2 separate regions of the Homo sapiens genome follow, and region 2 is linked to region 1. The links come from fine-mapping of genetic effects on gene expression. Tissue or cell type: whole blood. Region 1 holds a variant in brackets; the other region holds the start of a gene. All regions are shown on one strand. Distances are between the middles of the regions.

Region 1 (8,055 bases):
GCTCTCACCTACACCCACGCACCCCCCCACACACTATGCTCTCTCAAGAATGTAATTTATTGGGGCCCCCCCAGCTGCTTTCCTCACCTGCCCCTGCCCTACCTTACACCCCCAGCTTGACTTCTTTCCAGTCCACGTGTGTATATAATGATATCTATATTTTTGCCCAGGTCTGGGTATTGCTCCTGCCCAGACCCTGACATCCCTTTCCACTGTGTGTGTGACCATGCTGGGGGAGGGGGACTCTGCTTGGAATTAAAAGGTTGCATTGGGTCCCTACATCTGTCTTTTCCTTATGAGCCACCAGACCTGGGTGAACGAGACAAGCCATATCAGGCAGAGGGAAGCCCTGGGAGCAAGGGTTCCAATGCAGGGGCCGCCTAGGGCTGGAGGGCTGGAGACACAGCCCCGCAGTACTCTTTCCCCCAAGCCTGGGCCACAGAAGCAGGGGCTGTCTAGACAGGGGCCTGTCTGCCTCTCCTTCAGGGACTCTGTGATGGGGGCAGGAACCCTTGTGTTTGGGGCCAGAGGGAACTCACACCTCAGGGAGGAGGCTGGTAGAGAACTGGCTGGGAGGAAAGACTGCCCCAGCCCTCCACCAAATCCCAACGTGCTCGCCTTGGTAGCCAAGCTCAACATCAGACATGGTTGTCCCTCCCAAGGGGCAGGGTGCTCATGGTTCAATGGGGAGGCCGAACACAGAAAAGGTCAGCAGGATGTGAGTGTGTGGTGAGCTGATTGCCAAGAATCAGGCAGGGGAAACTAAGGAATGGAGAAATGGCAGTTGGAGGACGAGTCAAGTGGAGGCCAAGGGAGGAAGATGGGAATTTGGTCTTGGTTGACTTGGTAAGGCCTCCCAAGGGGAAAAGACAGGGAATTGCGTGTTGCGGGTGGGAGGTGGGAGAGGGGCTGCGGATCTGACGGGAAGACCAGAAGGAGGACTGCCTGCAGGTGTGGGTGCTTACGTGGGGAGGGGCCAGCCCCACCTGGCTGGAGCAGAACCATGTGTGGGCACATGAAGAGGCGTGCAGTCAGAGGGACCAGGTGAGTTGGAGGGTGCGCAACTTGTGAACCTGCGACTGGAGCTGGGGCCTAGCCTGAGTACCCTGGTTGAGTTCCTAGCCCCTGTGGCTGAAATAAGCAAAGTGGATAAGAACCCCTCAAATGTGAACGATTATTTTACATTGTAGGAGTTCTGTTGCATCCACAACATCATTTTATCCCTTCAGCAAACCTATGAGGTCAACAGAACAGATCACTGTCATCTTCTTAGCAAATGAGAAAATGGTGGGACAGAGACAATTCCTCTGAAGCCCAGAGCTACAGGAAACCAATGAGTGGAGAGTGGTGACAGGATTCAGGTTTCTAGGACTTTCCCAATAGGTACTGTTGTCTGTGAAGGAGAAGCAGAGGAGGGCAGACTAGGAGGGGCAGAAAGAAATGGGCTCTGCACACATACCCAATACAAGGCATTCAGAAACTGCTGGGGGGCTTAACCCTGCTCTGAGCATGGGGAACACAGCAGTGACCAGGTTGACGTGCCCGTTGTCCAAAAAGAGCTCCCAGGCTGTTCGGGAAAATGTCAAGGTCATTGAACCCTAAGGGGTGCTGGAGACAGGGTTTGGGAACTGTATGTAGTACGGGCAGGTTTGACCCTAGGTCCCAAAGGATTTTCAATTCATGAGAATTTAGAGCATATACATGATGGGATATTACTCAGCCATAAAAAGGAATGAACTAATGGTATTCACAGCAACCTGGATGGCACTGGAGACTATTATTCTAAGTGAAGTAACTCAGGAGTGGAAAACCAAACATCATATGTTCTCACTCATAAGTGGGAGCTAAGCTATGAGGTCGCAAAGGCATAAGAACGTCACAAGGGACCAGGCGCAGTGGCTTAAGCCTGTAATCCCAGCACTTTGGGAGGCCGAGGCGGGAGGATTGCCTAAGCTCAGAAGTTTGAGACCAGCCTGGGCAACATGGCGAAACCCCGTCTCTACTAAACATACACAAAATTAGCTGGGCATGGTGGCACACGCCTGTAATCCGAGCTACTCAGGAGGCTGAGGCATGAGAATCGCTTGAACCTGGGAGGCAGAGGTTGCAGTAGGCCGAGGTCGTGCCACTGCACTCCAGCCTGGGCTACAGAGCAAGACTCTGTCACAAAAAAACAAACAAAAAACCCACGATGGACTCTGGGGACTCAGGGGGAAAGGGTGGGAAAGGGGCGAGGGATAAAAGACTACAAATTGGGTGCAGTGTATACCGCTCGGGTGATGGGTGCACCAATATCTCACAAATCATCACTGAAGAACTTATTCATGTAACCAAACACCACCTGTTCTCCAATAACCTATGGAAAAAAAAAAAAAAAAGAAGGCTGGGCGCGGTGGCTCACCCCTGTAATCCCAGCACTCTGGGAGGCCAAGGCAGGTGGATCACCTGAGGTCAGGAGTTTGAGACCAGCCTGGCCAGCATGGTGAAAACCCATCTCTACTAAAATTAAAAAAAAAAAAAAATTAGAGCAGCTCAGACTGGAGCTCTTTGTCCCTAAAACAAAGCCTTAGGAAGAGCCTCTCAGTGCCTCCTCCCCACAACACACACATAAATAAATAAAAAATGAAAAAATTAAAGCATGAGCAAATTATTTCACATTGAGAGTCATTGACTATATGGCTTTTTTTTTTTTTTTTTTTTTGAGTCAGAGTTTCTCTCTTGTCACCCAGGCTGGAGTGCAATGGTGCAATGTCAACTCACTGCAACCTCCACCTCCTGAGTTCAAGCGATTCTCCTGCCTCAGCCTCCCAAATAGCTGGAACTACAGGTGCCCACCACCACGCCCGGCTAATTTTTTACATTTTTCGTAGAGATGGGGTTTTCACCATGCTGGCCAGGCTGGTCTCAAACTCCTACCTCAGGTGATCTGTCTGCTTTGGCCTCCCAAAGTGCTGGGATTACAGGCATGAGCCACCGCACCCAGCCATATGGCCTTCTCCTTGAATCTGGCCTTCATGCCTTGCATGTTTAAAGCAGCTTACCCGTGTTACTCGGGAGGCTGAGGCAGGAAGATCACTTGAGGTCAAGAGTTTGAGACCAGCCTGGGAAACATAGCAAGACCCCATCTAAAAAAAAAAAATGAATACATAGGGGCTGGGCGTGGTGGCTCACGTCTGTAATCCCAGCATTTTGGGAGGTCAAGGTGGGCAGATCACGAGGTCAGGAGATCCAGACCATCTTGGCTAACACGGTGAAACCCTGTCTCTACTAAAAATACAAAAAATTAGCCGGGCGTGGTGGCGGGCACCTGTAGGCCCAGCTATTTGGGAGGCTGAGGCAGGAGAATGGCGTGAACCCAGGAGGCAGAGCTTGCAGTGAACCAAGATTGTACCACTGCACTCCAGCCTGGGCGACAGAGCGAGACTCCTCAAAAAAAAAAAAAAAAAAAGAATACATAAAACTCAGTTTACCGTGAAATCATCTTCAACTCTTCATTTAAGCTGATAGGAGAGGCTTTTTTCAAAGGTCTTCCCCTAAATGGGCTAACCTGGCCTCAGAATTTAATAAAACCTCATGGTCTTTGATATTTCTGGACTATAACACATGTAGTGTGTACACTGACTTTTATTAGAGTTTTAAAAATAACATGTAAAAAGTTAAGTCGAATAAAAGGTTATGAACTCCTGATGTACTTTCATTATCCCCTAGAGTCCTCTGAGACATGCTGAAGGGAAGCAAGCTGATTTGACCTATCCAGCCTGGGTCCTTTACCTGTGAGGAGGTGGGCCTAGAAATCTGCAGAGACTGAATTGGAACTCCCACCTGTCAGAGAACTGAGGTCCCAATCAATTCTCACTCAGCCTGGGCTTGGCTGAACCCTGGCCCTCCTCAGGGCCTGAGGCCCAGACACTGGCCACCCTGGCTCAGAGTCTGGACTGCAGGCTCCACACCACAGCACAGAGCCCACTCTGGGCAGGTCAGCATTTCCTGTGCCTCAGCCCCACTGGGGAATGGGTCCTAAAAGGTGAGGCAGGTCCTGTGAAGCCCGAGACCCCAAAACTCTAGGTTCTATAATTCTGACAGGGGCTATTCTTCCTTCCCGAGGGAAACTGATTCCTTTCCCTCTCGTCATATTGAGAGGTGACAGCGTGCTGGCAGTCCTCACAGCGCTCTCGGCGCCTCCTCTGCCTGGGTTCCCACTTTGGCGGCACTTGAGGAGCCCTTCAGCCCACCGCTGCACTTTGGGAGCCCCTTTCTGGGCTGGCCAAGGCCGGAGCCGGCTCCCTCAGCTTGTAGGGAGGTGTGGAGGGAAAGGCACGAACGGGAACCGGGGCTGCGCGCGGCGATTGCGGGCCAGCTGGAGTTCCGGGTGGGCTTGGGCTTGGCGGGCCCCGCACTCGGAGCAGCCGGCCGGCCCTGCAGGCCCCGGGCAATGAGGGGCTTAGCACCCGGGCCAGCAGCTGCGGAGGGTGTACTGGGTCCCCCAGCAGTGCCAGCCCACCGGCGCTGCGCTCGATTTCTCACCGGGCCTTAGCTGCCTTCCCGCGGGGCAGCGCTCGGGACCTGAAGCCCGCCCATACC[G/T]GAGCCTCCCACCCGCTCCGTGGGCTCCTGTGCGGCCGGAGCCTCCCCGACGAGCGCCGCCCCCTGCTCCAGGGCGCCCAGTCCCATCGACCACCCAAGGGCTGAGGAGTGCGGGCGCACGGCGCGGGAGCACGGCGCGGGACTGGCAGGCAGCTCCACCTGCAGCCCCGGTGCGGGATCCACTCGGTGAAGCCAGCTGGGCTCCTGAGTCTGGTGGGGACGTGGAGAACCTTTATGTCTAGCCCAGGGATTGTAAATACACCAATGGGCACTCTGTATCTAGCTCAAGGTTTGTAAACACACCAATCAGCACCGTGTGTCTAGCTCAGGGTTTGTGAGTGCACCAATCGACACTCTGTGTCTAGCTGCTCTGGTGGGGCCTTGGAGAACCTTTGTGTCAACACTCTGCATCTAGTTAATCTGATGGGGACGTGGAGAACCTTTGTGTCTAGCTCAGGGATTGTAAACGCACCAATCAGCGCCCTGTCAAAACAGACCACTGGGCTCTACCAATCAGCAGGATGAGGGTGGGGCCAGATAAGAGAATAAAAGCAGGCTGCCCAAGGTAGCAGTGGCAACTCGCTTGGGTTCCTTTCCACACTGTGGAAGTTTTTTTCTTTCACTTTTTGCAATAAGTTGCTGCTGTTCGTTCTTTGGGTTTCCCACTGCTTTTGTGAGCTGTAACACTGACGGCAAAGGTGTGCAGCTTCACTCCTGAAGTCAGCGAGACCACGAACCCAACAGGCGGAACTAAAAACTCCAGACGCGCCGCCTTAAGAGCTGTAGCACTCACCGCGAGGGTCTGCAGCTTCACCCCTAAGCCAGCGAGACCATCGAACCCACTAGAAGGAAGAAAGTCCAAACACATCCGAACATCAGAGCAAACTCCAGACGTGCCACCTTAAGAGCTGTAACACTCCCTGCAAGGGTCTACAGCTTCATTCTTGAAGTCAGTGAGACCAATGAACCTACCAATTCCGGACACAATATGATGTCAGTGATAAGCAGAGACACTGGTTTTTGTTTCTTAGAGAGACACTATTTTGCTGTCACCCAGTCTGGACTGCAGGGGCACGATCATAGCTCATTGCAGCCTCGAACTCCTGGGTTCAAGTGATCCTCCTCCCACCTCAGTCTCCCGAGCAGCTTGGACTACAGGCACATACCACCACACCTGGTTATTTTGTATTTTTATTTTTTGTCAAGACAGGATCTTCATATGTTGCCCAGGCTGGTCAACAGCCTTGGCCTCCTAAAGTGCTAGGATTTCAGGCTTGAGCCACCACACTCAGCTGCAGACTTTTTTTTTTTTTTTTTTTTTTTTGAGACGGTCTCACTCTGTTGCCCGGGCTGGAGTGCACTGGCACGATCTTGGCTCACTGCAACCTCTGCCTCTCGGGTTCAAGTGATTCTCCCACCTTAGCCTCCACATACCACCACGCTTGGCTAATTTTTTTGTATTTTTAGTAGAGACGGGTTTTCACCATGTTGGCCAGGCTGGTCTCAAACTCCTGGCCTCAAGTGATCAAACCGCCTTGGCCTCCCAAAGTGCTGGGATTACAGGTGTGAGCCACCGCCCACAGCCCATAAACATTTTCTGATAGCCCTGTCAAAAAAGTAAAAAGCAACACGTGAAGTTAATTTTAACAATATACGTTATTTAACCCAACACACCTAATAGTCATTTCAATATGTAATCAATATAAGCCATGGTTGTTGCAGTTTCACACTTTCCTTTCTTACTGTATCTTCCAAATCGGGGTGTGCTTGGCACGGCACATCTTGGTTGGGACCAGCACATTTCAGGAGCTCATCAGCCCATGTGCCTGGGGCTGACTGAGACTTCAATTCAGGAGGAATTGTAATTTCTCTTCGAAAACACCTCCCTTAGCTCCCGCCTTAATCCCAGCTACTCAGGAGGCCCTGGCGGGAGGGTCGCTTGAGGCCAGGAGCTGGAGATCATCCTAGGCAGCACAGTGAGACCTCCCCTCCCAGTAAAAAAACAAAAAAAAAAAACAATTGGCCAGGCGTGGTGGCGCGCGCCTGTGGACCCAGCTACTCTGGAGGCCGGGGTTGGAGGATCGCATGAGTCCAGGAGTTGGAGGCTGCAATGAGCAGAGATCGCGCCACTACACTCCAGCCTGGGCGACCAAGCGAGACCCTGTCTCGGAAGAAAGGAAAGAAAAAAAAAAAAAAAAAAAACACCTCCCAGCCAACTCTCAGGGCCCACCGCTGGCGGTTCCCAGCCCGACTGGGCGCCCCCAGCCGGGGTTAGCCAGCGCCACGCAGCCGGGCCGGGAAGGGGCGGAGCGGCCGGGCCCCGCCCCCCTCGTCGCGCCGGGGCCGCCGGGGCCACGGGGCTGCCTCCTCCGCCTAGAGCGCTGCCGCCGCCGCTTTCGCCCGGGAGCCGGGGGCCGGGCGCCATCATGCTGAGCCGGCTCGGGGCGCTGCTGCAGGAAGCCGTGGGGGCGGTGAGGCCGGCAGGGCCGGGCCGGGCCGCCGGGAGTCGCGGGCCTAGGCCGGGCTGGGCGGGCGCGGAGCCGGGCGCGGCCCGCAGGAGGGCGGGCGGGCGCGGGCCCCCTCGGGCAGGGACCCCCGGGCCGCGGCGCCCCTTCCTCTGCCTCCCCGGCCGCGCCCCGCTTCCCCTCGCTCTTCCCAGTCCCGCTCCCAGACTCCTCCCGACCGCCCCACCTCCCCGGCCTGCTCCCGCGTCGCTTCCTGTCTGTGCGTCCTGGCCCCGGAGTCTCTCCCAATTCCCGAACTCGCCTCCGCCGGGACGCTCCCTGTCACCGCTTGGGGTGTTTCCTGCCCCCCGGGGCCCTAGGCCGCCTCCCCCCAGTCCCGGTGGGCCTGCCTCCTTCCTCCGCTCCACCCCACCGCCTCGCCTGGGCTTGAAAAAATCGCCGTCCCTTCCCCTCGGTCTGATCTCCCAGACAACTCCAGGACCTTGTTGGGGTGCAGGACGCCCTTCCCGTCACCCCGGGACGTGGGAAGTGCAGGCCCTGCCGGTCCAAGTCCCCACGAAGGGTAAAGACCCGGGGCAGGCTGGTGGGCCCCCAGCCGGGGAAATCGCCTTCTATTGGGTGCAGATGTTTCCAGCGTGGCTGTGACCCCTCACAAGCCAAATTGAGTTAGGGACATGCCGCCCGTGGTGGGGCCTGGGTGGCCCTGTGCGGGGAGGAGAGTCCATTGATGTTTCACGTGCCGTCAGTTTGTGTTTTTGCCATTTTTTGTTGGGGCTGCAGGCTGGCAGGCAGCCTACTACTAGGGTTCGTTCAGCAAGATGTAGCGCTGTGTAGGAAGGGTGGGGGTATTCCCGGTAGGGTGGGGGGGGTGCCCGCTGTTGAAAGTAACTCTGCCAAGAAGCTGTCTGTAAAGTCAGCAATACTTCTGCCTCCTAGTATAAATCTTCCCCCAATTGATGAGTTGAGTATCAGATTTTCTCAGGAGAGAAAGTCTTGGGTTTCACCCTCC
Region 2 (8,055 bases), 23 kb after region 1:
ATCCCAATGCCCAGTGCCCCATCACCAGTTAAATTATTGTTGCTGGGGGTACACCCAGAGTTCAAGCTCTCCAGGTGGTTGTGCATGGTGGCTCACGCCTATAATCCTAGTACCTTGGGAGGCTGAGGCGGGAGGATCACTTGAGGACAGAAGTTCAAGACCAGCCTTGGCAACATAGTGAGAACCCCATCTCTACTAAAAGCTTAAAAATGCGCCTGTGGTTCCAGCTACTTGGGAGGCTGAGGCAGGAGAATCACTTGTCACTTGAGCCTGGGAGGTCAAGGCTGCAGTGAGCCAGGATCACACCACTCCACTCCAGCCTGGGTGACAGAGCAAGACCCTGTTTGAGGGAAAAAAAAAAAAACCCAGGTGACCCTAACGTGTGCCCAGGGTTGGAAACTACTAGGCTAAATAATGGGGGCAAATAGCCAAATGTCATTGCCCGGCTGACTGGATATGGGCCAGTGGGTCCCTTAGACACTGAGAGAAGTGAACTGAAACAAAGGGGTTTGGTTCCATCATTTGTGAGGTATTTGTCCTCAGAGGGTACAAGGATTCCTACCACCCTCCAGGGCCCAGAAAGGAGGGCAGCCAAGAGAGGCAGGGAGGGGGCTGGGAAAGGGGCCTTGGAGGTCATCTTGGCCCTCAGAAGGGGAGCCTGTGCTAGTGTTTCCTTGCTCAGAATCAGAAATCTCTACCGTAGAACACTTGATATATTTTATTTGTTCATTTCCTTTGATTTTGCTTAAATTTCAGTAAAGTTCTTTTTTTCCTCTTTCTTTTCTTTTTTCTTTTGAGAGAGGGTCTTGCTGTCTCACCCAGACTGGAGTGCAGTGGCCTGAGCATGGCTCACTGCAGCCTCAACCTCCCGGGCTCAAGCCATCCTCCTGCCTCAGCCTCCTGAATAGCTGGGATTTACAGGTGTGCACCACCTTGCCTGGCCTTTTTTTTTTCCTGTAGACACAGGGTCTCACTATGTTGCCCAGGCTGGCTTCAAACTCTGGCCTTCAAGCGATCCTCCTGCCTCAGCCTCCCAAAGCACTGGGGTTAAAGGTGTGAGCCACCGTGCCTGGCCAAAGTTCTTTTTTTTTTTTTTTTTTTTTCAGACGAAGTCTATCACCCAGGCTGGAGCTCGGCTCACTGCAACCTTTGCCTCCGGGGTTCAAGCGATTCTCCTGCCTCAGCCTCCTAAGTATCTGAGATTACAGGCATCTGCCAACATGCCCGGCTAGTTTTTTGTATTTTTAGTAGAGATGGGGTTTTGCCATGTTGGCCAGGCTGGTCTCGAACTCCCTGACCTCAAGTGATCCACCTGTGTCAGCCTACCAAAGTGTTGGGATTACAGGTGTGAGCCACTGTGCCCGGCCACTTAGCAAAAAAAAAAAAAAAAAAAAAAAAAAATCCTACCATGATTCAGCGAGGCTGAGGGGAAATGAAGAAAAGGTTTGGTCTGGCATGGGCTGAAGTTGTGAAAAGGCAGAGGCAGGAGAGCCAGGGGGAGTGGTCTGCGCCAGGGAGGCTCAAGGAGAGAGCAGAGGCAGCACCTGCAGCTCCTGTCCCACTTGAAGTTCCTCTGGGGCCGCCCACTGCCCAACCCTTGGAGGGCTCAGAGCTGTGTTTCATTAGGGATGGGTCCCCTCAGAGTCACATCCCGGGCCAGCAGGCCAACTGGAGGGAGCCCCAGGGGCCGTGCTGGACAGCAGACTGGCCCGCACTGTCAGTGCACTGGGAAAGGCATGGGTGCCTGTGGGTAACACGAGGGGAGCAGCAGCTCCTGGACAGTAGTCCCCATCACTTTCTCCCCACAGAGACGTGTAGGCAGGGAGGCAAGGTGAGTAACACCTCTTTACTCAGCAACGTGCTCCTCCCTCGGGGGACCTTCCCCAGTGCCCCTCCATGCTCGAAGGGCCTGGAAGGATCAGAATGCAGGCCTTTCCCAAGGACGGCACAGAACGTGATGAGGAGATGCCACTGGGGGTGCAGAAAGCTCCCCATCCCCCTGGGAAGAGGCGTCAGCGTGCCCTCAGGGTAGTCAGGTCCTGAGCTTTGGACTCCTCGCTTGGTTAAAGGCACTGTCCCTTGTGCAATCTAGAGGAATGCTCCTCAAAGCATCTCTCCTGGGGACCAGGAGAGCCGCCCCTGCTCCCAATGCAACAAGATCCCTGATCGCCAGCCTCTTGCCTCCCTCAGAGGGAGACAAGTCCGCACTGGAGGGAGCACGGCTGCCTAGCTCCCTGTCACCTCCCCCACCTCTCTATCTGTTCACTGGGACAACAGAGGATCCCTGAAGCCGCTGGAGGAGCTGGCTTTGCAGGTCTTCCTCCATCACCTTCCACCAAGAGAAGTTCTCACCCCGAACTTTTGGGGGTTCATCCTGGATCCCTGGGCTCCGAAAAGCCACGGTCACCAGCACATTCAAACAGATGCCATCACTGTGATCTCGGCCCAGGTGCTGCAGTCCAAGCAACCCCTTGATCTCCACCACCAAGTGGTGCAGGGTCAGACACTCCTGCAGCAGCCGCAGGACGGCCATCTTCATGCCACCCCTCTGCTCCATAGGGTCGAGGCCACAGGCAGTGACAGGCAAGTGAGGCATCCCCACTGTGCCCACTAACACCCACACTGTCTGGGCGCTGGTAAAGGTAGCCACGAGCCGCTGGCAGACCAGATCACAGGGTAGCTCTTGGGGCAGAATGAGAGGGTGCCTGGCTTGCTGGCGATACTGGGCGGCTAGTTCAACCAGGTGCAGGATGTCATGGGCTCGCAGCGGAGTGGGCAGGGAGGTCCGTGGGTACCAGGCAGCCTGCAGGGACTCCGCATCGGCCTCCTTGGAAGTCTTGAGAATTCCACCTGGGGGAGATGTGGGGGATGGGGCAGGGAGGGTCTGTGTGGAGAGAAGTGCAGCTCTGGCAGAGTCAACAGACATCCCTGACCCAGGAGAGAGGCCCCCAGCCCAAAGGCTGGAATCTGCCCATGCCAGGCTGTGCCAGCCATAACAGGACTGGCTGTAGAGGGGCTCACCTCACCGAGGAGCTGGGGGAAAGGTGTCAACTGGCCCTGTTCACACTGCCTCCAGGTGGGCCATACCTGTGGGGCGAGCGAGGAACACGAAGCGGACCCAGGAGGGGCCCCGCTCCTCCACGGACAGCAGTGTCTCGGGCTCACAGTGCAGCCCCGCCTCCTCCTTCACCTCCCGCTGCAGCGCCTCCACGATGGTCTCCCCTGGCTCCATTCTCCCCGCAGGCAGGTACCACGACCCCCGGCACTCCCTCTTGGCCTCCTGGATCAGTAGCACCTCATCCTGAGAGGAGAGAGGATCCTCACTTCCTGCCACAGCCTTCCCTCGCCCCGGGACCAGGGGGCATCTCAAACACAGTCGCCCAAGACTCCCCTCTGGGTGGACACTCTCAACCCAGCTAGCGCTCCAGGAGACCTGCCCTCGTGTCGCTGGGGGCTGCAGCCCTCTCCTCTCTGCAATTCGTCTCTCTCTGGATTTAGGAAGACTTCCATTTCAGGAAGGGCTGAGATTCCTGGAAGCCGCTTCAGGGGCTGGAGATGAGGCCCCAGAGTGAGGGTCACCATGTGTCTGTCTGTCTTGGATTGATTTGCGTCTGTACCTGCCACTGTGTATCTCTCGCCTCCAACGGCGTGGTTTACAAACTGTGATGGGTCCTCACACTGGGGTCTGGCTTGAAACACGACCCCCACCTCCGCTCTGTACAACCCCGCCCTATGGCCCTGGCCCCGTCTAGTTGTCATTACATCGCCCACTACAGGCATCAGCACCAAAGGCCTGAAGGTAAGCCGGGATTGAGCCACTGCTATCTGAGGGGCCCTGGGCACTCCGCTAGACTCTGGGGAAGGGAAGGAATGAGGCCTAGTCGGATGAGACAAACAGGCCCCGGGCCTCAGTTTCCTCTTCTGCATATCGGGACGAACGCAGGACACAGATGCGAGTGGGAGTGGGAGTGCTTTGCAAAACTGGGAAGCGCCACGCACGCGGCAGCGCTGGCTGTGGCCGTTGGGTCTTCTGTCCCCACCTGGGCTGGCTGCGCGCTCCCGAGGCCCGGCGGGCCCGGGGGCGGCCGCTCACCTGCTCGCTGAGGAACACGGCCAGCACCACGTAGCACACGTTCTTCCGCAGCCGCACGGGCGCCGGCGGCTCCCCGGCCGGCGCCGAGTCGCAGCTGTGCACGCTGGACCCCTGGCCAGCCAGCACGGAAGCCAGCGCCCCCGCCAGGCCCTCCGAGGCCATCGGGTCCCCCGGGGGGCGGCGGGCCGGATCCTCGCAGACCGACTGAGCCGAGCCGCGGGCTAGAGTGCGCTGCGGAGCCCGCTCCCAGTCCCTGCGGCAGCGGGCCGGGAGCTCACGAGAACGCGGAAGCGCACGCGAACGCGGAAGCGCACGCGAGCTCTGGCCGCTGATAGGCTGCGCGGCGCCGCGGCCTGCCCGGATTGGCCGGCCCGCGGCATTCACCGAGGGGGCGGGGCCGCCCGGGGCCGCCCTGGAACTGGGGGGGCACGGGTCCGGAGCCCAGCGGACCCCGCCCGGCTTCTGCCGCCTGTCAGTCCCGTGCGCTCGGGACGTCTCCCAGCCGCCACCCGCTCGCCAACTCCCCGAGCGCGCACTGGTCTGCAGGAGCTCCGACGGTGACGTCATCTTTCCTGCAGGGCGCGTTGCGCCGCCGGGGTAGGCGACGGTGACGCGACAATCCGGTGACGTCACGGAGGCCCGGGGCCGCCCCCTGGAACCACTGTCCCGCTGTTGCCGTAAACACACAATGGCATTGCCGGAGTTGATCATATCCCAAATACCTTTCTTCTCATTCCACCAAAGAGTTATAAATGTCACATGGCCCGTGGGGTGGGGGACATAAACCCCTGCCTTGAAGGAGATTCTGCAATAGTTGGAGAGATGGACGGAGTCCTAGATGAGGAGTCAGCTGAGGGTTCGAGGCTAAGTGCTAAATGCTTGGTTTGGGCAGGAAGAGTGACAGGCGCTGGAAGGAGGGAGGGGGCAGGGCTGGGGATGGCGGGAGGGGTCCGGGGCTGAGAGAAGGCTGCCGTCAGCCGGCCCACCCTCATCAGTGTCCCTCTGCCTACCGCATTTCCCACGCAGCTCAAGGCCCTCTCTGCTGCAGATGGTGCGCCCTGGGAGGGCGGGGGTGGGGCCCTGCTCCTCCATCCTTGTCGTCACCCTCCCACCCAGCGTGCAGGACCTGGCGCGTGGAGAGCAGGGTGGGGGTGGTTGTGGCGAGCGCCTGCTCCTCTCCCAGCTCGGCCTTTCCTCCTTCACCCCACCTCAGCACTGGAAGGCAAAGCCAGCTGGAAGGGATCTGCGAAGCAGGCCGTCTGGCTCCTCACCTGGCAGAGGCCACCCCTTTCCTCTGCCTCTGATAGTTTTGTGCGCCTCCCTGCTAGGGAGACTGTGGCTTGGTGGTGTGGACAAAGCTCAGGACCTGCAGCCAGATGGCCAGCCACTGCTGACTGGCTTGCTCTGTGCTCCTGGGTGAGCTGTGGGCCTCAATTTTCTTATTTGTAGAGCAGGATCATAGCAATTCTTCTTTTACAGGGGTGTTGGGAAGCCACAACAATTGGAGAGGAGCTGTGTGGATTGTCCAGCACTGGGCACCGTCCCCAGGCAGCCCACCAACCCTCAGGGGTGGTCCCTCTCCACCATAGCTCTTGCTACCACACGCAAGGCCTGCCCTCATGAAATGTGACTTTTGTTATCCCCTAGAGTCAGGGTTTCACTGTGTTGCTCAGATTGGAGGTGCAGTGGCGTGATCACAGCTCCTACTGCAGACTTGATCTCTTGGATTCGAGTCATCCTCCTGCCTCAGACTCCTGAGTAGCTGGGACTGCAGGTGTGCACCACCACGCCTGGCTAAATTTTTAATTTTTAATTCTTTGTAGAAACGAGGGTCTTGCTGTATTGCCCAGGCTGGTCTTGAACTCCTGGCCTCAGTGATCCTCCCACCTTGGCCTTCCAAAGTGCTGTGGTTGCAGGCATGAGCCACCATGCCTGGCGAAATGTGCCTGTAGAGCTGCCTTAGAACTGGACTCAGGAACTTCAGCAACGCAGGATGCATCTCTTTAGGCTCCTCTCACCTGCTGATACTGACCACAGGCTCCCTGGAGGCAGGGCCCTGTGTTAGGCTGTGGGATATCACTAGAAGGCCCATGAATTTTGAGGCACTTGCTGAACGCCGCTGGGCCAGGCCCTATCATGGACCTCTCACCTTCCAAATAACTGCAGGCACAGGACCCCAGGACTGCAGAGCAACTTGTCAACATATTTGCTCTGTGTGTGTGTGTGTGTGTGTGTGTGTGTGTGTGTGTGTGTGTGTCTTGCGGCACACACATGTGTGAATCCCTCAGTTTTCCCACCTGTGAAGTGGGGGAAGTTGGACCCAGACTCCTGTCTGCCTCGCAGGGATGATTTGAGAGAGTGAGATCATGTCTAGGCAGGGATCTGGGAGCTTCAGAGGCAGCCTAAGGTAAACAACAGAAGGCCTCACTGCCCAGAGAGCAAAGACCGCAGCAAACCGTGGCTCCACGCCTCCCATTATCCCGGGGGGTAAAGCCCTCCCCCAAAGCCTCTTGTAAACTGTGAAGGGAGTGCTGAGACAACAAAGAGGCAGGAGTTCCCAAGGCCTTGGGAGAGAACAGCAGTGAGACAGAGGCTGGAGAGGCCCTGAGACAAGGGAGGCAGCTGAGGGAGGACGGGAGGCTAGATAGGAACCACCAGTGTCCCCATCAAGTCAACTGTGTGTCCTCCAGTCACAGAGAGGGAAGAACCCTGGCCAGTGTGGCGGGCCGCACAGTATGGTGAATGGGAGTAGCTTAATGCTCCCAGCACCCTTGGGAGCCAAGCCAGAGCCAGCCGTTTCAGGGCATATGTGCGCATGTGCGGTGGGGGTGGGATGGGGGGAGCACAGGAGCAGGAAGGCCTGGGTAGGCGACCATGGGGATGGGGATGGGGATAGGGACAGGCAGGGCAAGGTTGTATCAGGGCATCTGTGATGCTAGAGCCATGGACAGAGCAACAAGGCCTGTGTCTTGACAAGGTAGGAAGGTGAGGAGGGCAGGAACCCAAGCTACAGCGGGAGAGGGAGGGCTGGCCACAGGCTAGCTCTCTGAGGGACCCTGGGGACGCCACATCTACCCTCCAGGCCATCTGTCAAATGCAGGCATGGTTGGATCCTGGAACAGAAAAAGGGCATTCATGAAAAAACTGGTGAAATCCTGGTGAGGCCTGTTGCTTCGTTCGTAGTGTGGTATCAATATTAATGTCGTAGTTTTGATCAAGGCACCATGGTTATGTAAGATGTTCACAATAGGGGAGGCTGGGTGAAGGATAATTGGGAACTTCCTGTGCTATCTTTGTGACTCAGCTGTAAATCTAAAATTATTTCAAAATAAAAAGCCTGAGCATGTATATTCAGGGCAACTCGAATCTATGCTCCTGGGTAAAAAGGGAAAATAAAAAGTCTGAGAATTTTATCAGAGAAAAGGAAAGAAGGCATTGGGTATGCAACCCTGCGCTCACTTCCAGCTTGGCTGGTTGTATGTCTGGGATTTCTGAGCGACAGAGGGGCTGCAGGCAGAGCACAGCTGGTAGACCCTGTGAGCAGCAGAGGCCCAAGGGTCTCTGAGGAACAGTGCCACAGAGTGCCCCAAGACGAGTCTCCGAGTCAGTCCCTACCTGGTCCGGCTGCATTCTCAGGAACAGTGCTGGAACAAATGAACATTGATTCACTTCTGTTTACAAAGAGACCAAATATGTCCTCAAGGGCATTGTGACCCACCTGGAAGGCCAGAGGCGGTTAAGAGGAGATAAGGTCTTGAGGGGAAGACAGAGGTTTAGTGGTGCACTGTTCCCACCCCAATGGGTAAAATTCAGAGAACCATCTTCCCACAGGAAATACTCCAGATTTGGGGTTCTGAGGTGACATCAGGACATGGCTACAGAAGATGAAGTGGGGCATGGTGGATCACGCTTGTAATCCCAGAACTTTGGAAGGCCAAGGTGGGCACATTGCTTGAGCCCAG

The links. PIP is the estimated chance that this variant, and not a neighbour inherited with it, causes the effect.
Region 2: NUDT18 starts here. The variant in region 1 is fine-mapped to the expression of NUDT18 in whole blood (TOPMed, PIP above 0.99).

The regions. Positions count from the first base shown.
Region 1 is chr8:22,082,247-22,090,301 of GRCh38, forward strand. DMTN (dematin actin binding protein) reads left to right here. Exons shown (of 16, transcript NM_001387751.1): 16 at 1-279. FHIP2B (FHF complex subunit HOOK interacting protein 2B) reads left to right here and starts at 6,904. Exons shown (of 17, transcript NM_022749.7): 1 at 6,904-7,052. The coding sequence starts at 7,008. RefSeq lists enhancers at 3,935-4,544, 7,644-7,783 and silencers at 6,794-7,013, 7,074-7,133, 7,324-7,423. The variant G/T (reference allele first, on the strand shown) is at 4,582.
Region 2 is chr8:22,105,046-22,113,100 of GRCh38, forward strand. NUDT18 (nudix hydrolase 18) reads right to left here and starts at 4,374. Exons shown (of 3, transcript NM_024815.4): 1 at 4,094-4,374; 2 at 3,088-3,301; 3 at 1,833-2,850. The coding sequence starts at 4,255. The coding sequence ends at 2,255. RefSeq lists enhancers at 2,174-2,318, 2,715-3,488, 6,901-7,400, a cis regulatory region at 2,246 and silencers at 3,948-4,727, 6,844-7,209.